Linked DNA regions of Homo sapiens. The protein of the gene in region 1 purifies or fractionates together with the protein of each later gene. This does not show direct contact. Each region holds a gene or a part of one and is shown in the gene's direction. Other genes may lie near its edges. The genes, in order: SLC35G1, TFRC, RER1, TMEM63A, PACSIN2, HS2ST1 and SUPT5H.

The links.
Region 2: the proteins of SLC35G1 (region 1) and TFRC purify together in Homo sapiens (affinity purification with mass spectrometry; one large-scale study listed by BioGRID and IntAct). This does not show direct contact.
Region 3: the proteins of SLC35G1 (region 1) and RER1 purify together in Homo sapiens (affinity purification with mass spectrometry; one large-scale study listed by BioGRID and IntAct). This does not show direct contact.
Region 4: the proteins of SLC35G1 (region 1) and TMEM63A purify together in Homo sapiens (affinity purification with mass spectrometry; one large-scale study listed by BioGRID and IntAct). This does not show direct contact.
Region 5: the proteins of SLC35G1 (region 1) and PACSIN2 purify together in Homo sapiens (affinity purification with mass spectrometry; one large-scale study listed by BioGRID and IntAct). This does not show direct contact.
Region 6: the proteins of SLC35G1 (region 1) and HS2ST1 purify together in Homo sapiens (affinity purification with mass spectrometry; one large-scale study listed by BioGRID and IntAct). This does not show direct contact.
Region 7: the proteins of SLC35G1 (region 1) and SUPT5H purify together in Homo sapiens (affinity purification with mass spectrometry; one large-scale study listed by BioGRID and IntAct). This does not show direct contact.

Annotation. Positions count from the first base shown.
Region 1 is NC_000010.11:93,892,825-93,896,777, forward strand, and holds the start of SLC35G1 (solute carrier family 35 member G1), read left to right. Parts: upstream 1-1,153; 5' UTR 1,154-1,209; coding exon 1,210-1,387; intron 1,388-3,953. UniProt on the Homo sapiens protein: May play a role in intracellular calcium sensing and homeostasis. May act as a negative regulator of plasma membrane calcium-transporting ATPases preventing calcium efflux from the cell.
Region 2 is NC_000003.12:196,051,091-196,054,590, reverse strand, and holds part of TFRC (transferrin receptor protein 1), read left to right. Parts: intron 1-1,032; coding exon 1,033-1,173; intron 1,174-2,406; coding exon 2,407-2,649; 3' UTR 2,650-3,500. UniProt on the Homo sapiens protein: Cellular uptake of iron occurs via receptor-mediated endocytosis of ligand-occupied transferrin receptor into specialized endosomes. Endosomal acidification leads to iron release.
Region 3 is NC_000001.11:2,398,341-2,401,840, forward strand, and holds part of RER1 (protein RER1), read left to right. Parts: intron 1-1,074; coding exon 1,075-1,174; intron 1,175-2,516; coding exon 2,517-2,595; intron 2,596-3,500. UniProt on the Homo sapiens protein: Involved in the retrieval of endoplasmic reticulum membrane proteins from the early Golgi compartment.
Region 4 is NC_000001.11:225,851,381-225,854,880, reverse strand, and holds part of TMEM63A (mechanosensitive cation channel TMEM63A), read left to right. Parts: intron 1-1,089; coding exon 1,090-1,252; intron 1,253-2,111; coding exon 2,112-2,217; intron 2,218-3,500. UniProt on the Homo sapiens protein: Mechanosensitive cation channel with low conductance and high activation threshold. In contrast to TMEM63B, does not show phospholipid scramblase activity. Acts as a regulator of lysosomal morphology by mediating lysosomal mechanosensitivity.
Region 5 is NC_000022.11:42,872,150-42,875,649, reverse strand, and holds part of PACSIN2 (protein kinase C and casein kinase substrate in neurons protein 2), read left to right. Parts: intron 1-119; exon of another isoform or gene 120-3,158; intron 3,159-3,190; exon of another isoform or gene 3,191-3,500.
Region 6 is NC_000001.11:86,921,135-86,924,634, forward strand, and holds part of HS2ST1 (heparan sulfate 2-O-sulfotransferase 1), read left to right. Parts: intron 1-3,500. UniProt on the Homo sapiens protein: Catalyzes the transfer of a sulfo group from 3'-phospho-5'-adenylyl sulfate (PAPS) to the 2-OH position of iduronic acid (IdoA) or glucuronic acid (GlcA) within the heparan sulfate (HS) chain and participates in HS biosynthesis.
Region 7 is NC_000019.10:39,459,082-39,462,581, forward strand, and holds part of SUPT5H (transcription elongation factor SPT5), read left to right. Parts: intron 1-102; coding exon 103-168; intron 169-477; coding exon 478-508; intron 509-810; coding exon 811-879; intron 880-3,500. UniProt on the Homo sapiens protein: Component of the DRB sensitivity-inducing factor complex (DSIF complex), which regulates mRNA processing and transcription elongation by RNA polymerase II.

The DNA of each region.
Region 1 (3,953 bases):
AAACACACTTTGATTTTCTAACATAGTGTTTTCCAGGTGATATTATGCTTTTGCCCACATCATTGCATTTTATTTACATAACTACTCTGCGAAGCAGGAAGGGAAATACTTGATCGCTATTAAATAAAGGAGGTAATCAAGGCTTCGAGGGGTACAGTGGTGACTGAGGTCACACACTCAGGGCCAGAACCTAGGATTCCTGACTTCAAGTCTAAAACTGTTTCAGCTGTGGATCACTATGTGCAAATGTCTGAGTAAAGGCAAACTTCACTCTCCTTTGGTGATCTGCTTGGCACTGGACTTAGAAGTTTAGATACGTTCATCCTTGCACAGAGACTGTTCTTCCACATATAAAGCAAGCAAAGAGATGGAAGAAGAATTATTAGCTAAACAAAAAGAGGCTGTTAGTGAATCCTGGGCCAAAGAATATATTTTACCAGGTCTAATTACATCAGATTACTTGAATCTTACATCTGGCCAAATTAGGATATTTCCATTTAAGAAAAGAAAACCAAAGATCAATAATGCATGCCTACTCTTGCAAAGAATGCAAAGAACATATAAATGGGTTCTGGTCAGTCTTATAGATATATTTTCCTATAATTACACACTAATTCTTTCTTAAAAATATTTCCCAAAACAGCAAAATTCTACCCTCCTTGGTAAGCAGCAAAGGGACAACACGGGAAACAAAACAAAACAAAACAAAACAAAACAAAACATAAAAACCCTAGACCATTTAAAGACAAGCATGGTGCTTTGTAAAATCTTCGGGGTATCACAGAGGTGCTGAATGCGTGGTTACATCAATGAAAAAACGCCCACTCTTTGAGCCTCCTGAAAAGGAGGCCACAGGACCCCCGGGCGCCAGGGCTTGGGAACCCAGCGCCCCTCCTTGTCTGTGCCATGACAGACAGGTTCAGTGTGACTTGCCAAGGATGGCTCCAAGCAGCTGGGCCATGTAGCCTGAACGCAGCAGAGGGTTGGACGCCTTAGAGCCAGCTGTGGGCACCACAGCCCGACCAGGGAGGCAGCGGGTCTCCCCAGGTTAAGAGGCCAGCGGAGGACGCGCGCGGTCTCCTTGGGGGAGGGTGCGGGTGGGCCGGGCGCGCATGCGCATGGGCGCCATCGCCCGCCGGAAGAGCGGCAGCCCAGGCGCTGCTGCTGGCGCCAGACGGCACCGGCCGCTGGTAGAGCGCGTGCCGCGAGATGCGGCCTCAGGACAGCACCGGGGTCGCGGAGCTCCAGGAGCCCGGGCTGCCGCTAACGGACGATGCACCCCCGGGCGCCACTGAGGAGCCGGCGGCCGCCGAGGCAGCTGGGGCGCCAGACCGCGGTAGGTGCTGGCTCTGCCTTTCCTCGCCGTGTTGCTCCCGCACCGAGCCGGGTGAGTGCGCGGTGTGGATCGGGCTCTGGTCTCGCTCGGGGGTCCCGAGCGGGCGCCGGCGGGTTGGGGTCCCCGCAACCCGGGCACAGTGCCCGCCGCGCCTCCGTCCCCACCCTGCCCGGGGCTCGGGAAACCCCTCGAGCTGTCAGCTGGGGGGCTGCAAAGCGGAATTCCCGGCGCCCCAGCCGGCGCTAAGACGGAAGAAACTTTCCGATTGTTAGCAGTCCTTTTGGGATTCCGAGGCTGCTCCTGTAATTAGTGTCGGGGCAGGGCTGTGGAGTCAGACTGCAGTTTGGCGTACCCTCCCCTAGGTCGTAGGTGGGGGGTCAGCGAGAGAGGCCATCCTGCAGTGGGGCGACGTTGCGAGGAAGCTGACCCTGAAAAGTGATCCCGGTGGTTAAGGGTTCTCTCCGAAAAGGAAGCTGAAAAGCATCGAGTCTAGAAAAAATGTTCGTCCTAGAGTTTTAGAATCTTGGAAAGGCAGAGATAAGTGGGACCGCTAGTTTTTAACCTTTAGGGATACAAGGACTTTTTAGCAAACGATGCAGAACAAGGCATATCTTGTTAAGAAGCTCACAGCCCCGTCCCCAAAGTCAGGGACCCCTCGTGAAGAACACTTTATGTTCAGTCCCCCTCCTTCGACACATGAGCAAAGTGAGGCCCAGGAAGGTGAGGGCTTTTGGGTTTTCGTTTGCTTTGTCTCCTCCAAGATGTGGAACGTGGGGGTGAGATGGGGCGCATGTCCAGGGAGCACCAGGGTTAGGATCCCAGCTTGCCATATACCGGCCTAGGGCCCTTTCCACTGGCCACAAGTGCTGCTTCAAGCACATTCCTCTTAGAAGTCGACCATCTACCAGGAGCAGCTTCCTGCAAGAAGAAGGGAATAGGCAGATCTCTTTTTAGGACAGTTACACGGCCTGCACCACCTTGTCCTCTGGGTCACCTCCCCTAAGTGTGACCCTGGATTTCTGTTCCTCTCCTCTCACTGCGCTTTCCCCTCCTCCCTTTGTGCACTTTCCCCAAGTTAGAGAGACAGACTCTAGGAAGACTATTCTTGCTCCATTTCTGTCCTAAAGGCAAACCGAAATGATCAGACTTGTGATCATTTATAAATGGGCTGGTGCCTCTAGAACAGGGGTTATGCCAGGCTGAATTGAACAGATAAGCAGCCTTTGAAAAGGTCAGTTTCTCACCTATCACCCTCTGGGTGAATGTCCTTCTGGTGGCATGCCGAATCAGTCCATGCAAACTCTTAAAGTTTCCCCTTTTTGTGAATGGAAGAGGAATTCTCTACTCCCAGGCAGCTCATGGCAAGATGAGAAACTTACGTGAGTGTATCTAAGAATCTTGTGGGTGTTTAACTTCAAAGAAAGTTTCTACCAGTAAGACTTAGTTATTGTAAGGTGACAAGATAATATTTTGGAAAGAAAATTGACATAAAAACACTTTACTGTTGTCATTGAACTTTGTGACACCTCTTGTTCTAACTGCTTATCTCAACAAAGCTTTTTTCAAGTTCTGGTTGGAACTGTTACCCATATGTCTTACATTCTTGGATGACCTTAACAGACACATACAGCTGTCCCAAGACATCTCCTTACTTTCTTCAGGGACAGTGTGGGTCTTACACTGAAGCAAGGAGAAGTAGTTTCTTAGGCCTGTGCCTCACATCCTCTGGAGGGAGTTAGTGATCGAGTGTAGCAGTGGTTCTCAAACTAGTGGAGCCTTTTAGAGTTACAGAGATTCTATTTCGGTGGGTCTGAGATGGGGCTTGAGAATTAATTTTTTTTTTTTTTGGAGATAGGGTCTTACTCTGTCACCAAGGCTGTGGTGCATTGGCGTGATCACAGCTCACGGCGACCTCAACCTCCTGGGCTTACTCGATCCTTTCATCTAAGTCTCCTGAGTAGCTGGGACCACAGGCACACACCACCACACCCGACTAATTTAAAAATATTTTTTGCATTGATGAGGGGGTTTCCCCGTGTTGCCCAGGGTGGTCTCAAACTTTTGAGCTCAAGAGATCCTCCCACCTTGTCCTCCCAAGGTGCTGGGATTACAGGCATGAGCCACTGCACCCAGGAATTAAAGTTTTAAGTGTTACTCAGGTGATTCTAATTCCCAACCAGGATTGCGAATCACCAGCTGAAAGCAGAGGATAGAGAAGCTGAGTAATTTTTCAGTTTTCTTCTAAGTGAGGAAATTACACCATGGCCACTTACCTAATTTGAATAATTTGAGTTACCAAATTATTAGATATGCTTGCAGTGAGATATGAACATGGAACCTAAACAAATGCCTCTTTCAGTTATGCTAGTCATGCTCATCTCCATTGACAGGATTGAAATGATTTAGTAAGAAACTGAGGTTTGTCTGAGTGGAGCCAGTCCTCACCCTCGTTAACAAATCATCAAATGCAGCGAGGCCTTCTAATGTCTGTCCCTTCCCAGTTGGAAAGCATGAGCCTTAAGTGTTTATAGGCAAGAAAATACATGTGTATGTGTTTTAAGGGGAAAGGTCACTAGGGCCAAGGGGGTGCAATTACATTTTTAAAGAGTTAAAATAT
Region 2 (3,500 bases), on another chromosome or scaffold:
CAGCCCAGGCAACATAGCAAAATCCCATCTCTAAATAAATTAATAAAACTAATATTAAAGTAGCTTCCAGATTGTTTTATGGTACTAGGAGTTGATTTTTAACAGATCTCTTAATTGAAGTAAATCACTGACAACCGAATCTTTTTATATCTTTTTTATTTTTATTTTTATTTTATTTTTTTTGAGAGATGAAGTCTCGCTCTTGTCCCCCAGGCTGGAATGCAATGACATGATCTCGGCTCACTGCAACCTCCACCTCCCGGCTTTAAGCGATTCTCCTGCCTCGGCTCCCCAGGTAGCTGGGATTACAGGCGTGTGCCACCATGCCCAGATAGTTTTTGTGTTTTTAGTAGAAGCCGGGGTTTTACCATGTTGGCCAGGCTGAAGTGCAGTGGCGAGATCTCGGCTCACTGTAAGATGCGCCTCCCGGGTTCACGCCATTCTCCTGCCTAAGCCTCCCGAGTAGCTGGGACTACAGGTGCCGGCCACCACGCCCGGCTAATTTTTTGTATTTTTAGTAGAGCCGGGGTTTTACCATGTTGGCCAGGCTGGTCTTGAACTCCTGACCTCAGGTGATCCACCCACCTCGGCCTCCCAAAGTGCTGGGATCACAGGCATGAGCCACCACGCCCGGCATCTTATGTCTTTCTTGAAACTAATTGTAACTGTTGAAAATGGAACTTACCAGGTGGAAATAACTAAATCCTGAAGTACCTTGAACCAAAATGTTTTCCCCTATAGGGACATTTTCCCCCAAAAGGAGAATTGAACTGGAAACAATATAGTACATAGGATTATATAATTATGTTCAATTTCTTAATGAGAATGGTTTTCTTACATGCTGGGCTCAAATATGAGTGTATATCACAGTCCATAGAGCTTGGAACCCCTGTGCAAGGTGCTTTCGGAGTCTTGAGCTTATCTGCGAGTTCCTTTTATCAGAATCTTACTTAACGCACGTTAAATTAGAAAGGCATACAAAAGAATGTCCTTAGAAATAAAACTTCTCATAGCGAATAATGTCTGTTTCAGGAAATGGGCCTGAGTTTACAGTGGCTGTATTCTGCTCGTGGAGACTTCTTCCGTGCTACTTCCAGACTAACAACAGATTTCGGGAATGCTGAGAAAACAGACAGATTTGTCATGAAGAAACTCAATGATCGTGTCATGAGAGTAAGTGAACTTTTGGGAAAGGAGGAACTAAAGTATGTGTAAAATAACCGATAAATCTTACACTTCTGCAAAGTGGACAAACTCTAGGAGTCTAGAATTCCTTTAAGAAGGGAGCATTAATGGTTTAGCTGTCATTTTCTGTTTCTGCTGTCTAATTCAGAACTTAGTCAAACCTAGTCTTTTTGGAAGAGACTTGCTGTAAAACTTCCATGTATGCTCCAATGGGGAAAAGAATCTGAACACATTTAAAGTTTTCCTTTGTAAAATGAATCAGTTTCCTTTAAAAAAATTTTTTTTTTTTTTGAGACAGAGTTTCACTGTTGTTGCCCAAGCTGGAGTGCAATGGCACGGTCTCGGCTCACTGCACCCTCCACCTCCCAGGTTCAAGTGATTCTCCTGCCTTAGCCTCCCGAGTTGCTGTGATTACAGGTGCCCAACACCACGCCCGGCTCATTTTTTGTATTTTTAGTAGAAACGGAGTTTCACCATGTTAGCCAGGCCGGTCTCGAACTCCCAACCTCAAGTGATCCACCTGCCTTGGCCTCCCAAAGTGCTGGTATTACAAGCGTGAGCCGCTGTGCCTAGCCTCCTTTAGAATTTTAACCTTAGAAGATTAGCATTAGCCTGGTTCTCAGCATTCTTTTTTCCTTACTCTGCTATAGAAAGTCTGATCAGCTGGCTGGGTACAGTGGCTCATGCCTGTAATTCCAGTACTTTGGGAGGCCGAGGCAAGCGGATCACCTGAGGTCAGGAGTTCAAGACCAGCCTGACCAACATGGAGAAACCCCATCTCTACTAAAAATACAAAAATTAGCTGGGCGTGGTGGTGCATGCCTGTAATTCCAGCTGCTCAGGAGGCTGAGGCAGGAGAATTACTTGAACCCGGGAGGTGGAGGTTGCAGTGAGCTGAGATCGCGCCATTGTACTCCAGCCTGGGCAACAAGAGCGAAACTCTGTCTCAACAACAACAAAAAGCCGGGCACGGTGGCTCACACCTGTAATCCCAGCATGAATTGCTTGAACTCGGGAGGTGGAGGGTACCAGTGAGCCGAGATAGCGCTGTTGCACTCCAGTCTGGGCAACAAGAGCGAAACTCTGTGTCAAAAAAAAAAAAAAAAAAAAAAAGTCTGATCGGCATTCTTAAATTTGGGACATTTTACATTTGAAGTGAACTGTTGTTTTACTACAAAAGTCACAGGGCTGTGTAAATTGCCTTGTGTGTTGTTTTCGTAGGTGGAGTATCACTTCCTCTCTCCCTACGTATCTCCAAAAGAGTCTCCTTTCCGACATGTCTTCTGGGGCTCCGGCTCTCACACGCTGCCAGCTTTACTGGAGAACTTGAAACTGCGTAAACAAAATAACGGTGCTTTTAATGAAACGCTGTTCAGAAACCAGTTGGCTCTAGCTACTTGGACTATTCAGGGAGCTGCAAATGCCCTCTCTGGTGACGTTTGGGACATTGACAATGAGTTTTAAATGTGATACCCATAGCTTCCATGAGAACAGCAGGGTAGTCTGGTTTCTAGACTTGTGCTGATCGTGCTAAATTTTCAGTAGGGCTACAAAACCTGATGTTAAAATTCCATCCCATCATCTTGGTACTACTAGATGTCTTTAGGCAGCAGCTTTTAATACAGGGTAGATAACCTGTACTTCAAGTTAAAGTGAATAACCACTTAAAAAATGTCCATGATGGAATATTCCCCTATCTCTAGAATTTTAAGTGCTTTGTAATGGGAACTGCCTCTTTCCTGTTGTTGTTAATGAAAATGTCAGAAACCAGTTATGTGAATGATCTCTCTGAATCCTAAGGGCTGGTCTCTGCTGAAGGTTGTAAGTGGTCGCTTACTTTGAGTGATCCTCCAACTTCATTTGATGCTAAATAGGAGATACCAGGTTGAAAGACCTTCTCCAAATGAGATCTAAGCCTTTCCATAAGGAATGTAGCTGGTTTCCTCATTCCTGAAAGAAACAGTTAACTTTCAGAAGAGATGGGCTTGTTTTCTTGCCAATGAGGTCTGAAATGGAGGTCCTTCTGCTGGATAAAATGAGGTTCAACTGTTGATTGCAGGAATAAGGCCTTAATATGTTAACCTCAGTGTCATTTATGAAAAGAGGGGACCAGAAGCCAAAGACTTAGTATATTTTCTTTTCCTCTGTCCCTTCCCCCATAAGCCTCCATTTAGTTCTTTGTTATTTTTGTTTCTTCCAAAGCACATTGAAAGAGAACCAGTTTCAGGTGTTTAGTTGCAGACTCAGTTTGTCAGACTTTAAAGAATAATATGCTGCCAAATTTTGGCCAAAGTGTTAATCTTAGGGGAGAGCTT
Region 3 (3,500 bases), on another chromosome or scaffold:
TTTAGGCAGAAAGACTTCTTGTTTGTATAAGAAAGTTAAAGCATTTATATTTTTATTTATTGTTTTGAGATGGGGTCTCACTCTGTCGCCCAGGCTGGAGTGCAGTGGCCTGATCTTGGCTCACTGCAACCTCCACCTCCTGGGTTCAAGTGATTCTCTTACTTCAGCTTCCCGAGCAGCTGGGATCACAGGCATGTGCCACCATGCCTGGCTAATTTTTGTATTTTTAGTAGAGACGAGGTTTCACCATGTTGGCCAGGCTGGTCTTGAACTCCTGACCTCAGGTGATCCACCCGCCTTGGCCTCCCAAAGTGCTGGGATTGCAGGCGTGAGCCACCACACCCGACAGAAATTTAAGGCTTTTGAAATTGAGAATGCGGTTCTGGCTTTTAACGGGATATGCTTAATCATTTTAAAAAATGAATTAGTTGCAAATAAGTGTGCTGCACTCAGGCATCTTGCCAAAATTCTCCCCACTTTTCATCTCTTGAGGAAGGCTTGGCATAAGCACACTTTTCTGGATTTCCCAGTTGTGGATTTCTTCTGGGCAAAGGTTTAACCCTCCTGGCAGAGTGTTTTTGGCAATGTGAATTGTCTGTTGGAGGAACATCAGCCAGCACGCCTCCAGTCACAGTTGAGAGTCTGTCTTCTGTTTCTGATGAAGCTGCTCCTGGGTGGGGCTCTGGGCCAGCATCGCTCAGGTGCCCGGGCCACCCGAGCCTGTGGTGTAGCTTGAGCATGTGCTTCTTGAGAAAAGCCTCCTTTTCTGCTGCGCTCCTTGTGGGGCGTCTGTGGCTTCAGGGATCACATGTGTCTAACTGGACCCTTGAAGAGCTTTGCTCATTTGGGCCCTTGCTTGTCCGCTTTGTCTCTGTTCCCACAGAGTATAATTTGAGATAAATTGTTACCATGGGATTTCACTGTATTTCCTTGTCCTTGCTATGAGTAAGTTTTGTGTTAAAACAAAGTTAGATCAGTTAACAAAGTTGAGAGTGAACCGGAGTGCAAACGTGAACTGGCTCAGGCTGATGGACGGTCAGAGTGCACCACTGACTCTCTTTCCTTCTCTTTCAGGGTTGGTACATTGTGACCTATGCCTTGGGGATCTACCATCTAAATCTTTTCATAGCTTTTCTTTCTCCCAAAGTGGATCCTTCCTTAATGGAAGACTCAGGTAGGGTAGCGGCTGTGCACTGGGCTGTGTGGGCAGGTTGGGCCTTTCTTTTCTGATGGGATTGCCCAGTGTTCTCTGGAAACACCCGAGACTCTTCTCTTGGGGTTGAAATGTACTTGTAATGTTGGGTGATCAGGATATGTTTGTAGAATGACTCTTCAAACCCTCCTGACAGCCACGAAGTGGGTGTTCATTCTGTTTTCCCACTTTGCAGATGAGGAAACTGAGGCATACAGGGTTAGGTAACGTGTTCGAGGTCACATGGCACCACAGACAGTAGGGGTCTGAGGTGGACAGTCCGACTCCAGCCCCCGTCCCACCCCAGTCAGTGGTCCCTCTCAGAATCAGCGGAGGCAGCCATGACGAGGTTACCTTTTCCCGTAGCCAGAGGGTTCCACAGGCAGCTCACTGTGGTGCACAGAGACCGCCGGGACTCTAATGCCAGCATCGGGTCGGGTCAGGCTTTGGGCGGCCTTCTCTGGTTTCTGAGGAGCTGTGAGCTGAAGTGTTCCTGGTGCTTCGTGCTCCACTATTGGAAGACTTACGCAGCTCCTGGGCCTGCCTGGGCCAGGTAGGGGCCCTGAGTTCATGCCTGACTGGCCAGCCCCAGGCGAGGAACAAACAACTGCATTCCAGGACGTGGTGGCCATTGAGGGAAAACCCACACGCAGCTCCCTGCCAGGACCCTCCTCGTTCTGGGGGAACCTGCTGTCAGGGAGTAGGGTATGCTCTCACTGTGTGGCCAGAAGCCTGTGAGTCTTCTGTGTAGGATATGTGATGAAAAGATTGCTGGGAACACAGCCCCTCTCTGTTGTTGCTGTTTGGAGGAGACTAGAAAATAACAAAGAGCCCCTTTCCTGTAGGCCTCAGTTTTCCCATCTGTAAATGGGGAGCGGCACCCATCCCAGTGGGGGAGGCGGGGTGAGAGTGGGCTTGGCACAGCTGCTGGTGGGACAGGCCTGGCGCCCGGGTTCCACGGTCAGCGCATCCTCGGCCCCGCCCTGTTCTCTGCCGCTTGCTTTTTATGTTAATTTGCCTTTGTTTTCTTCTGTGCCTTTACGTGGTGCAGCTGACGTGTTCCTGGATGTTTATATGTGGTTGAATTCTTCGTGCATTGAAAACGTGTGGAAGTCTAAAAACATTCTGATAGCACCTTCTGAAAGCAGTGAATTGGATGTGTCAGTTGACCACAGACCCCCGTTTTCTCGTTTTCTCTGGTTAAATGACATGAATCTCGGTTTAGATTTGTGAGGCCTGCTAGTCCAAAGCCTTGAGGGGAAAAGGTAGAACTGTGATGGGAATGAAAAGAGGTGCCCTCCCTGATGGTTGCTCTGCCTTACAGATGACGGTCCTTCGCTACCCACCAAACAGAACGAGGAATTCCGCCCCTTCATTCGAAGGCTCCCAGAGTTTAAATTTTGGTGAGCTAATTCTTCACGGTATTTGAAGAGAATTGTGCTCAAGGGTGGCTGAGACTGAGACTACACTGATTTTTGTTCAAGTCACCTGAAAGATGACTGCTGTGCTGGGCTGGGCACGGGGAATCGCAGGGGCTCTCTGTAGAAGGCCACTCACTACCTTGCCGCATTCTCTTGGTTTCAAGTCAGCACCAGTGCCCTGGAGGTTGAGTCTGGGATGGAGTGCGCACCGGCTTCTGTGGTTGTGGCCTGGGGAGGGCAGGCCCTCTGTCCTCCCTCCTCCTCCCTCCTCCTCCCTTCCTCCCTCCTTCCTCCCTCCTTCCTCCCTCCTCCACCCTCCCTCCTCCCTCCTCCTTCCTCCCTCCTTCCTGCCGCCTCCTCCCTCCTTCCTGCCTCCTCCTCCCTCCTTCTCCCTCCTTCCTCCCTCCTCCTCCCTCCTTCCTCCCTCCTCCTCCCTCCTCCTCCCTCCTCCTCCCTCCTTCCTCCTTCCTCTCTCCCATCCCCAGCCTTGTGGCTCCTTTTGGCTGGCAGAGGGACTAGCCTTCTCCTGGAGTCATTTTTGAGAGGGGTTTGAGCCGAGGTGTCCGTGTCTGCACGGGTAGGCAGAGGTGGGTGGTGCAGCCGTCAGAGGGACGGGAGCGTGTGCATCCGTTTGTCTTGTCCCTCATACCCCACTCTGGGAGCACAGGAGGAACCCAAGTCTGTTAGATCAGTAAACTGAAGGAGCCTGCTGAGCTCGTGGGGCTCCACGCCTTGACTTTGCAGCCGCAGATGGAGTGTGGTACAGAAAGATCAGGGGCCCTGGAAGCCACCAGAAGCTTGGACTAGGAAGGGAGAGCTGAGCCTCCAGGGCCGTGGCATCTGTTGGCCATGTGCTGGGACGGGAGGGAGCACTGGTGGCCATGCCA
Region 4 (3,500 bases), on another chromosome or scaffold:
CCCTCCTTGGTGGGTTCTCTCCCATCTCCCCAACTCTAGATTTTGGCTGCCTGAAGGCTCAGCCCCCAGTTCTGGGTCCACACTGCCTCTCTAGGTGACTTCAGCTGAACCCACGGCTTCCATGCCATGATACTGCTCCTGAATTAACTTATGCGGACAACATCCACATTTATGCCTCTAGCCTGCACCTCCAGGCTGGTAACCCAACTGCCCACCTCAAACTCTAGCTGGAGTTTTACTGGGTACCACGGATGTTACCTGCCCAAAACCAAACTCTCGACTTTTACCCTCAAATCTGCTACTCTACAACTTTCCCCATTCCATATTGTTTTTCTACTTGTTTTGGCAAAAAACCTCAAAGTTCACCTTGTTTCCTTTCTATCCCTCCCATGCCATACCCAGCCTACCAGAAAATCCTGACAACTCTCTCTAAAGTAGATCCAGAATCCCTTCATATCTCACCACCTCCATCACAACCGCCCTCATCCCACATGGGGATGACACAGTGGCCATCTGTGTAGTCTCCCTGACCCCATTGGAACAGATCCCTTGTCCTGGGCTGGCCCCCAGCCCCTTTCAGCCTTGTCTTCTGCCTCCCCTCGCCCACTGCTGTCCAGCCCCTGGATGTGCAGCAGACGAGGACATCCTCAGGTGTCTTGTATGTTGTTCCCTTTCCCTGGAATCCTGTCTTCCCAGGTTTGGGGATGACTTGCTCCTTCACCTCTTCACATTTCTGCACGAATATCACCTCGTTAGAAAGGCTCCTCCAACCCCTGTATGACATAGGAACCCTCCCTGCTTTGTTTTCCTCTAGTGCTCACCGTCCCCAGCAGATGGAATATTTGTTTGTCTGCTTGTTTGTGCCCCCAGCTAGAATGTGAACTTCAAGAGAGTGGCGCAGGGGCTTTGTTCTATTCTCAGTGCCTAGAAAGGTGCTTGGCACACAGATGTGTTTCCCAAATATGTGCTGAATGAACGGAAGAGTATACAGCCCTCCCAGGGGCTTTCTGCTCCTGCCCAGCCTAGGGGCCCCTCCTCTCCCTCCAAGAGCGGCTCTCAGCTCACAGACCTGGGCCCTGGTTTCCCCAGGTGCGTCTTCCTGCCTGACCAGGGTGCCTTCTTTGTGAACTATGTCATCGCCTCGGCCTTCATCGGCAATGGCATGGAGCTGCTGCGGCTGCCAGGTCTCATCCTCTATACCTTCCGCATGATCATGGCCAAGACGGCTGCTGACCGCAGGAATGTCAAGCAGGTGCCATCCCCTGGGCCCAGGGCTGTGCCTCTGACTCCCTCCCATGTCCCCCTTCACTGACCCGAGGGCCTCTCACCCCCACTACCCCCACTAGTGGGTAGCATTTACCTGACTACCCACTAGTGCAGGCACTGGGCTAAGTGCTTCTCAAACCCGGGTCCAGGCAGGCGTGGCCTCCTCCAGCCTCCTCTCTAGCTCACAGGCTGGAGGAGAGAGCTTGGGACTTTGGCATTTGAAACGGTTTGATCGCACACATACATACATACAACTCAAACCAACAGACTCTTTTTCTGTAGGCACCCATTTGCATAAATTCTTAGCCAAACCCCAGATGTCAAAGGCATTTTCGGCTTGTGGCATTTATTCCAGGATTCCCTGAACTGGAGGGTGTGGCTTTCTCTTTTATTCTCCTCTGCCATGGTGGGCACTGTGCGAGGAAAGTGGGAGAAGTGCTGCATTCCTTCATTTCATTCTCAGCCCCCTTATGAGCTGGGCACTGCTAGTATCCCGATTTCACAGAGGCATGAACTAAGCTGGCCCAGGATCCCCTGCTAGAAGGGCTGGAGTCACTCTACACCTCTTCCCTGACCACCTCTTCCCTCCAGGGGCTCACATGCCTGTTGGGTGGAACGAAGGGAGCACTAGCAAACACGCATCACCATGCCTCGGGAGGGCTGGGTGCACTGAGTGAAGCAGGGCAGGCTGGGAGGGATGGGAAGGACCTTGGGAGGCGGGGAGCCACGCATCTCCTATTTCCAAAGTCCTCCTCCACCCTGCTCTCCCATCACCACTTAGAGAGCACAAAAGGGTGTTTGAGGTGGAACAAGTCCATGAGCTCCTCACCACCTCCTCCTCCCAGAACCAGGCCTTCCAGTACGAGTTTGGAGCCATGTATGCATGGATGCTGTGTGTCTTCACTGTCATCGTGGCCTACAGCATCACTTGTCCCATCATCGCGCCATTTGGTGAGTGGCCCTGGAGCCTGTCCCAGGGTACATGGGTACATGGACGGCTGATTGCACCAAACCTCTCGGGGACAGCTATCACCAGGGCACAATGGAGTTCCCAAAACCACAGCCACAAGAGCCACAAGCTGCTAAAGACTCACGTGACACCAGATTTCACTCATTTCTTTCTTTTTTTGTTTTGAGACAGGGTCTCATGCTGATGCCCAGGCTGGAGTGGCATGATCTTGGCTTACTGCAACCCCCACCTCCTGGGCTCAAGCCATCCTCCCATCTCAGCCTCCTGAGTAGCTGGGATTACAGGTGCCCGCCACCATGCCTGCCTAACTTTTTGTATTTTTAGTAGAGATGGGGTTTCACCATGTTGGCCAGCCTGGTCTTGAACTCCTGACCTCAGGTGATCCACCCGCCTCAGCCTCCCAAAGTGCTGGGATTATAGGCATGAGCCACAGCACCCGGCCTCATTCATTTTTAAATGAATTCCTCCCACTGGCCCTCAGCTAGGACCTCTCTTAGTATTTCTGGTCTGAGGTTCTCTGCCCACTGACTATGTCGTTCATGGTTGATTTCTTTAGCAGCAAGTAAGACAGTGCCAGAGTCACAATCAAAGCTCTCGTGCTGCTTTCACTCTGGCAGATGCCTGCCTCCACGTGGATTACCACATTTCTCACCTCATCCTACAAGGCAGTTCCTGTTTCTATTCCCCCTTCACACAAAATAACTTCGTATGTTGTTAGTAAGCAGGAGAACCAGCCTTTGAACTCAGGACTGTTTAAAGACCAAGGTCCTGGCCACTGAAATAAAACATCTGCAACTGGCAGATTAATGAAAGGCTCTAGAAGGAAACAAAAAACCCAAGAGACTGCTGGCAGTGATAGCTGAGTTTTAGGGGGAAAAGTTGTTTTAGTTTTCCCTGTATACTTTCTTGTGTAGTTTTAAAAATCTACAGTATTTACACTTTCAAAACAAAATTTATTTTTTAAAAAAGAACCTGGGGCTGGGCACGATGGCTTATGCCTGTAATCCCAGCACTTTGGGAGGCCTAGGCAGTGCATCACCTGAGGTCAAAAGTTCAAGAACAACCTGGCCAATATGATGAAACCCTGTCCCTACTAAAAATACAAAAATTAACTGGGCATGGTGGCAGGCGCCTGTAATCCCAGCTACTCGGGAGGCTGAGGTAGGAGAATCACTTGAACTCAGGAGGCAGAGGTTGCAGTGAGCCAAGATTGCACCAGTGCACTCCAGCCTGACCAATGAGCGAGACTCCATCTCAAAAAAAA
Region 5 (3,500 bases), on another chromosome or scaffold:
GCAGGAGAATCACTTGAACCTGGGAGGTGGAGGTTGCAGTGAGCCAAGGTCACACCACTGTACCCCAGGCTGGGTGACAGAGCAAGACTTTGTGTCAAAAAAAAAAAATTAGCTGGGCTAATTTTAGTGGCACATGCCTGTAGTCCCAGCTCTCTGGGAGGCTGAGGTGGGAGGATCACCTGAGCCCAGTAGATTGAGGTTGCAATGAATCATGATTGTACCACTATACTCCAACCTGGACAACAGAGCGAGACCCTGTCGCAAACAAACAAACAAATAAATAACCTGGGCAACAGAGCGAGATCCTGTCTCAAATAAATAAACAAACAAAAGTAGCAGATTAGCTGGGCGTGGTGTTGCATACCTATAGTCCCAGCTGCTTGGGAGGCTGAGGCAGAGGATCACTTAAACCCAAGAGGATACAGTGAGCCATGTTCATACCACGTACTCTAGCCTAGAAGAGAGAGCAAGACCCCATCTCTTAAAAAAAAAAAAAAGTAGGCTGGGCATGGTGGCTCACGCCTGTAATCCCAGCACTTTGGGAGGCCGAGGCACACAGATCACGAGGTCAGGAGATTGAGACCATCCTGGCTAAGAGTGTGAAACCCCGTCTCTACTAAAAATACAAAAAATTAGCCGGGCGTGGTGGCAGCCGCCTGTAGTCCCAGCTACTCGGGAGGCTGACGCAGGAAAATTGCTTGAACCCGGGAGGCGGAGCTTGCAGTGAGCCGAGATTGCGCCACTGCACTCCAGCCTGGGCGACAGAGCAAAACTCTTTTTCAAAAAAAAAAAAAAAAGCGGATGCCCAATGCCAAGACTCAGAAATAGTGAGGTGCTGCCAAGCCAGTGCCTGGACTCCTCACCTTGCTGGGCCAAGGCTGTGAATTGCAGGGCACTGGCTAGTCACACAGAAGGGCATCTGGAGAAGCTGTTGGCCAGGACCACCAGGTTCCCCCATATGTAGTCTGGGAGCTGCTAGCCCCGCAGGGCCATGAGAGAAGCCTTTCTCTAGGGGTCCCCAACTGCCAGAGAAGCCCTCAGGAGAGCCACAGCTTTGCCCAGACCCCAGAGTAGCACTTGGCATGCCCCTGGGCCAGGTGGGGCCTTGTCTCAGGCAGCAACTTGTGTGTGTGCACACCTACCTGCCCACACCTACCATGCACACACCAACCCACACACATATCTGTGTTGCTAGGAGCAGAAACCATAGTTTTATAAAACAGCCTGGATCCTGATTACATGTGCTCTGCCTGTGAAGACTTTCTGTGCAATGTCTTTTTCTTCTTTGAATGGTCTTCAATGATAATCTTTTTTTTTTTTTTTTTTAATAGAGACACGGTCTCACTCTGTTAGCCAAGCTGGGTTACAGTGGTGCGATCATAGCTCACAGCAGCTGCAGCCTTGATCTCCTGGGCTCAAGCAGTCCTCCCACCTCAGCCTCCTACGTAGCTGGGACCACAGATGTGTGCTACCACCCCACCCACTATAGGAATCTTTTTTAATGCATTTGCAGTTTACCAAAATGGCTTTTCACATCTTCAATTTGAAAAGTGTTATCTTGTCCGGGCACGATGGCTCACACCTGTAATCCCAGCACTTTGCGAGGCCAAGGCCGAAGGATCACTTGAGGTCAGGAGTTTGAGACCAGCCTGGCCAACATGGTGAAACCCTGCCTCTATTAAAAAATAAAAAAATTATTCAGGCATGGTGGCACACACCTGTAATCCCAGCTACTGGGGAGGCCAAGAGAATCACTTGAACCTGGGAGGTGGAGGTTGCAGTGAGCTGAGATCATACCACTGCACTCCAGCCTGGGTGATGGAGTGACACTCTGTCTCAAAAAAAAAAAAAGGAAAGAAAATTGCTATCTTAGCACCTAAGGAAGCTGGAGTGGCCTAGGGCCAAAGTGGACCCACAGCAACCCAGATTCTTCCCTCTCTTGCCCTCTTTGTGAAGCTCCCCCAGAAGCAGCATCTACCACTCCAAGAGGGAAGCTGGGCCAGAACTCAACCCACACAGGCTGAAGTGTGCCCTTGCCCCTAGGCTACACTTGTGGGAAAGGCTGCCTTACCACCACCACCCCAACCCCTGACTCAGCAGGGAAGCCAGGGCCTGGGGGCTGTGCCCAATGGCCTAGCTTCTAACCAGTCTTCAGCCTCCTCCCCTCAGCACCCAGAGTGCCAGCCTGCTGTCCCCAGACACTCTTCCCCTGGGCTGGTTATCAGCTGCCTCTGCCCAGTTTGAGAAGTTGGGTTTTTTTGTTTTTTTGGATTTTTTTTTAATGTGCCTTTAAGCCATCTTCATCCAGTTTCTGATATCTTTGGTTGGGGTTGTTACCCCCGACTTTGTTGGTTTATTTGTTTATAATTTCTAACTCCTTTTCAATCCTGCCTATTGGGTTTGACAGTAATTTTGTAGATTTAAAATGTTTCTTCCAGATCCAAGTAAATTGTCAAAAGCAAACTGATTGAAATGAACCTTCTAATCACCAGTTCACATTTGCACAATGTGAAAGCTTTCCTGTCCGTTCTATTTTCTGTGTTATCCTGCTTTTTAACAATGCAAAATTAGCTCCCAGCCAGTGTGGCTTGACTTACGTCTCTTGCGGTGTTCTGGCTGTTTGCCACATGGTAGTGTGGGGTTACAGGCCTCATCCTAGCCTCGGTAGCCTGGATCCAGGCCTGTGAGAGCACAGCAACCAATGAAGGCAGGACAAAAGAAACGCCAGGGGCCCGAGGCACGAAGCGGTGGAAAGAGATGGTGGTTCATCGTGGCTGCTGCCCTGTGGCCCCTGCATCTGCTCCTGATGCCTCTGGGTTAGATCTGCAGGCGCACTGGTCTGGCAGAAGCGGCACGACAGTGGGAGGCTGAGCCAGTGCTTACGCATGTCCCACCCTCCCAGGGTTCTTTAGTGTCTTAACACTTAATCTTCACAGTACCCCCAGTCCACAGATGAGGGCCACAGGCCCAGGGAGTGGACGCAGTTGGTCCAGGTCTCCCAGCCAGTGAGTGATGGCTGTGGGATTTGAGCCCAGGCAGTCCGGGGAGCACTGGAAGCCCCAGGTATTAGCTCCGCAGGCATGTTGACCAGCATTGCTGCCATACAAAATCCAAAGCATCAGGGAAATGCTAAACCAGGGGGAAAACTGCATCTAATTCTGAAAAATGGACCAAAAAATGCCAAAGAGAGTTACAAAACTTCAAACTTAGCAATAAAGGCAAAACAGCACTGGGACTATTTCTTTCCCACCAATTGCTTGCTCCTGACGAGGTCCGAGCCAGCAGGCCCAACTGGCCTTCCCTGCAGTGAGTTACCAACCAGAAGCACACAGGCCCCTGCCCACCCCTGGGCTCTGAGCTGCTCTGCTTCCCTAACCTGGCAAATGCCAGACCTGGGGCCCTACCCTAGTGCCACCTCCCCCTCACCACCCTAGTCTGCCTCCTTGAGACCAGGATCCATCAGTTCCTCTCATCTCTGTATCTCCTCTTCTACCCAAGGC
Region 6 (3,500 bases), on another chromosome or scaffold:
ATATGTATTCTGTTGTTATTGGCTGAAGTATGCTGTAGATGTCGGTTGGTAGTATTGTTATGGTGTTTTGTATTCTTGATTTTTTTCTGCCTCTTCATCAGTTATGGAGAGGGGTTTTGAAATCTTTGATAATTGTGGATTTGTCTGTTTTTCTTGTAGTTATGTCACTTTTTGCTTCATGTATTTTGAAGTGCTGTGATTAAGTATATGCACATTTAGGCTGTCATGTCTTCTTGATGGACCAACCCTTTTTTTTATACAAGATACCATCTTTATCCTTGGTAATATTCTTTGCTCTGAAACCTACTGCTGTGGTGTTAATGTCTCCCCCAAAATTCACATGTTGGAAACTTAATCTCCGATGCAACAGTATTGGGGCGGGAGGTGGAGGGTGTTTAGGTGATGAGGGCTCTCCCCTCATAACTGTATTAATACTGTTATAAAAGAGCTTGTGGCAGTGTGTTCTCTTTTTTCTACGTAAGAAGACAGCATTTGTCCCCCTTTTGCCATTTCTACCCCCAACCATGTGAGGATGCCACAAGAAGTCCCTCAACAGATGCTGGTGTCTTGATTTTGGACTTCTCAGTTTCCAGAACTGTGAAGAAATACATTTCTGTTTTCTATAAATTACCCAGTCTCAGGTATTTTGTTATAGTACCACACAATGGACTATGATACTTACTTTGTCTAATACTAATACAGACACTTCAGTTTTCTTTTGATTAGTGTCAGGTGGTATATCTTTTCCCATCCTGTTAATATTAACCTACTTGTGTATTTATATTTAAAGTGGATTTTTGGTAGACAGCATCTAATCTTTCATCTAATTTCACAATCTCTTTTGTTAATGGAATGTTTAGAACACTTAATGTGATTATTGATGTGGTTGGGTTTAAATTCGTGAGTTGCTATTTGTTTTCTGTTTATCTTAACTGTTCTGTGATTCCTTTTTTTCTGTTGTCTTTAGGATTAAAGGGGTATTTTTAAATTCCATTTTTTAATTTGATGACTTACTAGCAGTGCTCTTTGTTGTTGTTTTTTTTTTAAGTGGTTGCTTAAGGGTTTATGGTATACATGATAGAATTTCATGTGTAGTATAAGAACCTTAATATATTACCACTTTTTTCTGGGTTCTTGCTATCGTCATTATACATTTTACTTCTATACATGAGTCCTACAATACATTATTATTTTTGCTTTAACTTATATTTTAAAAATATATAAAATGTTTAAAAATTTTTTAAAAATTTGCTGACATATTTACCATTCCCAGTGTTCTTCATTTTGTGTGTGTGTGTGTGTGTGTGTGTGTATGCAGATTTTCATGTGGTACCATTTTTTTCACTCTGAAGAATTTCTTTTAACATTACTTACACTTAAAAATATACTGGTGATGAATTCTTTTCATTTTGTGTGTCTGAAAAAGTCTTTATTTGCTATAGTGTTTGAAGGATATTTTTGTTGGGTATAGAATTCTAAGCTGACATTTTTGTTGTTTCAGTACTTTAAAGATATTGCTTCATTGTCTTCTGGCTTGCATTGTTTCTGATGAGAAGGTTGCCATCATTCTTTGTTCAACTATATGTAGCGTGTCTTTTATTTTTCCTCTTTTGCCTACTTTTAAGAGTTTCACTAGGTTTTTAATTATTTAATTATTAAATTATGTTTCTTGTGCCCTTGTATTATGTTTCTTGTGCCTGGGGTTTGTTGAGCTTCTTGGATCTGTGAGTTTACAGTTTTTATTACATTTAAACATTTTTGGCTATTATTTCTTCACGTTAGTTTTTCTATGCTGCTTCTCCTCTCAGGAACTCAAAATACACTTACATTAGACCACATGAAATTGTTCTACAGTTCAGTGATGTTCTATTCATCATTCTCAGTCTTTTTGTGTGTGTGTGTGTTGTTTTAGATAGTTTTTACTGCTAGGTCTTTAATTCACCAATCCTTCTGCAGTATGTAATCCACTTTTAATATTACCCAGTTTATTTTTTATCTCAGGCGTTGCCTCCCACTCCTCCCCCTGCCCTTCTAGAAGTTTAATATAGGTCTTTAAAAAATTATGTATCATTTCTTTCCTTAACATCCTGTATTAGCCCGTTTTGACGCCCTGAGACTGAGTAACTTACAAAAGAAAGAGGCTTAATTGGACTTACAGTTCACATGGCTGGGGAAGCCTCACAACTGTGGCAGAAGGCAAGGAGAAGCAAGTCACATCTTATGGTGGCAGGCAAAAAATGAGAAAGCTTATGCAGGGGAACGCCTTTTTTTTTTTTTTTTGAGACAGAGTCTTACTCTGTCACCCAGGCTGGAGTGCAGTGGCGCAATCTCGGCTCACTGCAAGCTCCGCCTCTTGGGTTCACGCCATTCTCCTGCCTCAGCCTCCCGAGTAGCTGGGACTACAGGTGCCTGCCACCACGCCTGGCCAATATTTTGTATTTTTAGTAGAGATGGGGTTTCACTGTGTTAGCCAGGCTGGTCTTGATCTCCTGACCTCATGATCCACCCACCTTGGCCTCCCAAAGTGCTGGGATTACAGGTGTGAGCCACTTCGCCTGGCGGGAATGCCTCTTTTTAAAACCATCAGATATTTTGAGACTTATTCACTATCATGGGAACAGCATGGGAAAGACTTGCCCCCATGATTCAGTTACCTCCCACCAGGTCCCTCCCACAACACAGGGGAATTCAAGATGGGATTTGTGTGGGGACACAGCCAATCCATATCATTCCACCCCTGGCCCCTCCCAAATCTCATGTCCTCACATTTCAAAACCAATCATGCCTTCCCACAGTCCCCCAAAGTCTTAACTCATTTCAACATTAACTCAAAAGTCCACAGTCCAAAGTCTCATCTGAGACAAGGCAAGTCCCTTCTGCCTATGAGCCTGTAAAATCAAAAGCAAGTTAGTTACTTCCTAGATACATTGGGTAAATACAGCCATTCCAAGTGGGAGAAATTGGCCAAAACAAAGGTGTTACAGGCCCCATGCAAGTCTGAAATCCAGCGGGGCAGTGAAATCTTAAACCTTCAAAATGATATCCTTTGACTCCATGTCTCACATCCAGGTCACACTGATGCAAGAGTTGGGCTCCCATGGCCTTGGGCAGCTCCACCCCTTTGGCTTTGCATGATATAGCCCCCCACTCCTGGCTACTTTCACAGGCTGGCATTGAGTGTCTGTGGCTTTTCCAGGTGCACGGTGCAAACTGTCAGTGGATCTACCATTCTGAGGTCTAGAGAACAGTGGCCCTCTTCTCACAGCGCCACTAGGTGGTGCCCCAGTAGGGAATCTGTGTGGGGGCTGCAACCCCACATTTCCCTTCCACACTGCCCTAGCAGAGGTTCTCCATGAGGGCCCCGCCCCACAGCAAACTTCTGCTTGGGTATCCAGGTGTTTCCATACATCTTCTGAAATCTAGGCTGAGGTTCTCAAACCTCAGTTCTTGACTTCTGTGCACTCGCAGGCTCAACACCATGTGGAAGCTGCCAAGGCTTG
Region 7 (3,500 bases), on another chromosome or scaffold:
ATGGTGGGGGCAGGTGGGGGCAGGGAGCAGGTGGTCCCTAAGCGGGAAGGGGCGGGGATCTGACAGAGCTTCACCCCTTCCTGACTGCCCTCCTCCCTTCAGGGTGTATGGAGGATCTGATGAGCTCTCAGACGACATCACCCAGCAGCAGCTGCTCCCAGGAGTCAAGTAAGGGGGTTGGGATGGTGGGGGCCGTGCTGGGGTGCGAATCTTGTATGGGGTGATGGTGCCTAGACAGGTGGCTCCCTGAAATAAGTCAGGGCAGAGTCACACAGGCAGTGTGGTGGATGGCAGGGGTAGGGAGGGCAAGGTGGCACTTTCTCTTTCCTCTTGCTCCTGGGTAGAAGCGTGGGGAAGTCAGTGAGTGTGAGGGAACCTGGATGTGAAACCAGAGGAAGGGGGTGGCCCTGGGGGTTCGTCTGTTTGTTACTGAAGATCCAGCTTCACTGAAGGCCTTCCTTTTCCTCTGCTGCTTAGGGATCCCAATCTGTGGACTGTCAAATGTAAGGTATGTGCTCTGATCTCGGGGCTTGGAGGAGGTGGGAGAATGAGGGAGGCTGCTTTGTGGGGGAGAAGTGTCTGTCTGTCCCGGGTCTCCGTGGCCTGCCAGTCACTTGGTCCTTCTGTCTCCATCCCTCACTCCACGTTACTGACTGGCTATCTCCCACCTCCATCTTCCTGGCTGTCCATCCTTCTTTCTCTCTCCTCTCTTGGTCCTACTTTATTTTTCTTGCTGCTGTCTCCTTCCCCCTTTCCTGTGTCCTTTCCTCCATCCTGTCATCTCTCTCAAATCTGCCTCTCATCTTCCAGATTGGGGAGGAACGGGCCACGGCCATTTCCTTGATGCGCAAGTTCATTGCCTACCAGTTCACAGACACGGTAAGTCGGGTAGACAGGCGGCTTGGTGGGGAGACATGGCAACACCCAGAGGGAAGAACATTGTCAACTTCAGGGGTACCAGGTGCCTCTGTTGTGAGCAGAGCTGCCTGCTGAGTGAGCTGCTTGAGCTGGAATAAGACCACTGCCTAGATGGAAGGGCTCTTCTCGGCCTAGATGGATATGTTGTCTTTGTTCTCTGCATTTATGGCAGGGTCTTCCCACCCTTGTAGCCCTTTGGAAGTCAGCCAGCTAGCTTCCTGCACCTTTTCTTCATGAGAGTGGGTTTGCCTGTTCACCAGCCCTGTTGGGCTGGGGTCACCCACTTCACCACATGCCAGGCAGCAAATGCTGCATCCAAGGCCCAGGTCTTTCTTTAGACTGACAGAGTTTGAGTCCTGCCCTTGCCACTTCTTAGCTGTGTGACTCTGATGCACCTACTTCCCCTCTCTGGGCCCCTTGGTTGCCTCTCAGCATCATTAGGATTAAGTGGCTTTTGGCTGGGTGCAGTGGCATTCACCTGTAATACCAGCACTCTGGAAGGCTGAGGCAGGCAGATCACTTGAGGTCAGGAGTTTGAGACCAGCCTGGCCAACGTGGTGAAACCCCGTCTCTACTAAAAATACAAAACTCAGCTGGGCGTGGTGGTGCACACCTGTAGTCCCAGCTACTTGGGAAGCTGAGGCAGAATCACTTGAACCCAGGAGGCAGAAGTTGCGGTGAGCCGAGATCGCATCACTGCACTCCAGTGTGACAAAAAAAAGGATTAGGTGGCTTTATGTCCAGCTCTCAGCTAGGACTTGTTCTGCAGCTTGCATTTACTTAGCAGAGCTGTTGTCAAAGGCTTCATTGGCAGTTTGGGAACCAGGGCAAACGCTATGAAGGGTGCTGGCTGGTAACTTTCTCAGTTAACATGATCCCTGCTAGGGATCATGCTTTCACCTGTCCAGCCACTGGGTGTGACCCAGTGGGACCAAGTAGACAGTTGTAGGGTTTGCAAACTATGCTTTTAAATGTGCTCAAATGTCCTCCTCAAAGGCCGGCCATGGTGGCTCATGCCTGAATCTCCAGCACTTAGGGAGGCTGAGGTGGGTGGATCACGAGGTTAGGAGTTCGAAACCAGCCAGTTTGAGACCAGCCTGGCCAACATGGTGAAACCTTGTCCCTACCAAAAATACAAAAATCAGCTGGGCATGGTGGTGCTTGACTGTAATCCCAGCTACTTGGGAGGCTGAGGCAGGAGAATCACTTGAATCTAGGAGGCAGAGGTTACAGTGAGCCAAGACTGCGCTATTGCACTCCAGCCTGGGCGACAGAGTGAGACTCCGTCTCGGGGTGGGTAGGGGGTGGAATGTCTTCCTCATTATTATAGTAATAAGTGTCCCTGCCTGTCATGGGTGAGATTGGGATTTGTGGGGTATGATTCCCCAACAGGGAGGTTGAAAAGGTACCTTTTGGCTAGGTGTGGTGGCTAATGTCTGTAATACCAGTATTTTGGGAGGCTGAGGCAAAAGGAGTTCGAGGCCAGCCTGGACATCATAGTGACATAGTGACAACTGATTTCTACAAAGAAAATAATAATAGGCCGGGCGCGGTGGCTCACGCCTGTAATCCCAGCACTTTGGGAGACTGAGGCGTGTGGATCACCTGAGGTTAAGAGTTCGAGACCAGCTTCACCAGCATGGTGAAACTCCGTCTCTACCAAAAATACAAAAGATTAGCCAGGGGTGGTGGTGCATGTCTATAATCCCAGCTACTTGGGAGGCTGAGACAGGAGAATTGCTTGAACCCAGGAGTTGGAGGTTGTAGTGAGCCAAGCTCGTGCCACTGCACTCCAGCCTGGGCAACAGAGCGAGACTGTCTCAAAAAAAAAAAAAAAAAAATAATAATAATAATAATTAAAAGAAGTGTGCTCAAATCCTCCTACATGGTACCCTGGGGTAAAATTCTAGTTACTTCATTTGAGTTATGTCTCTGATTATTATTTTTTTTTGAGACGGAGTTTCACTCTTGTTGCCCAGGCTGGAGTGCAATGGTGTGGTCTCGGCTCACTGCAACCTCTGCCTCAGCCTCCCGAGTAGCTGGGATTATAGGCATCCGCCACCATGCCCGGCTGATTTTTTTGTATTTTTAATAGAGACGGGGTTTCACCATGTTGGCCAGCCTGGTCTTGAACTCCTGGCTCAAGTGATCCACCCGCCTTGGCCTCCCAAAGTGCTGGGATGGCAGTTCTGAGCCACTGTGCCCAGCCTAAAATTTAATTTTTTTAAAGTGTAAACTGTGGTGGATTTTATATATTGTAGTGTATTCATAACCATCATCACCATCTAATTCCAGGACATTTTCATTATCCCAAAAATAAACCGATACCCATTAGTCATCACTCCCCATTCCTCCCTCCTCACAGCTCCTGGTAACTATGAATCTACCTTCTTTCTCTGTGGATTTGACTATTGGAACTCTGAATGGTTCATACAAAGGGAATCATACAATATGTCGCCTTTCGTGACTGACTTGCTTCACTTAATGTTTTCAAGACTCATCCATATTGTAGCATATATCAAGACTTCATTTTTTTGTTTGTTTTTTTGAGATGGAGTTTTACTCTTCTTGCCCAGGCTAGA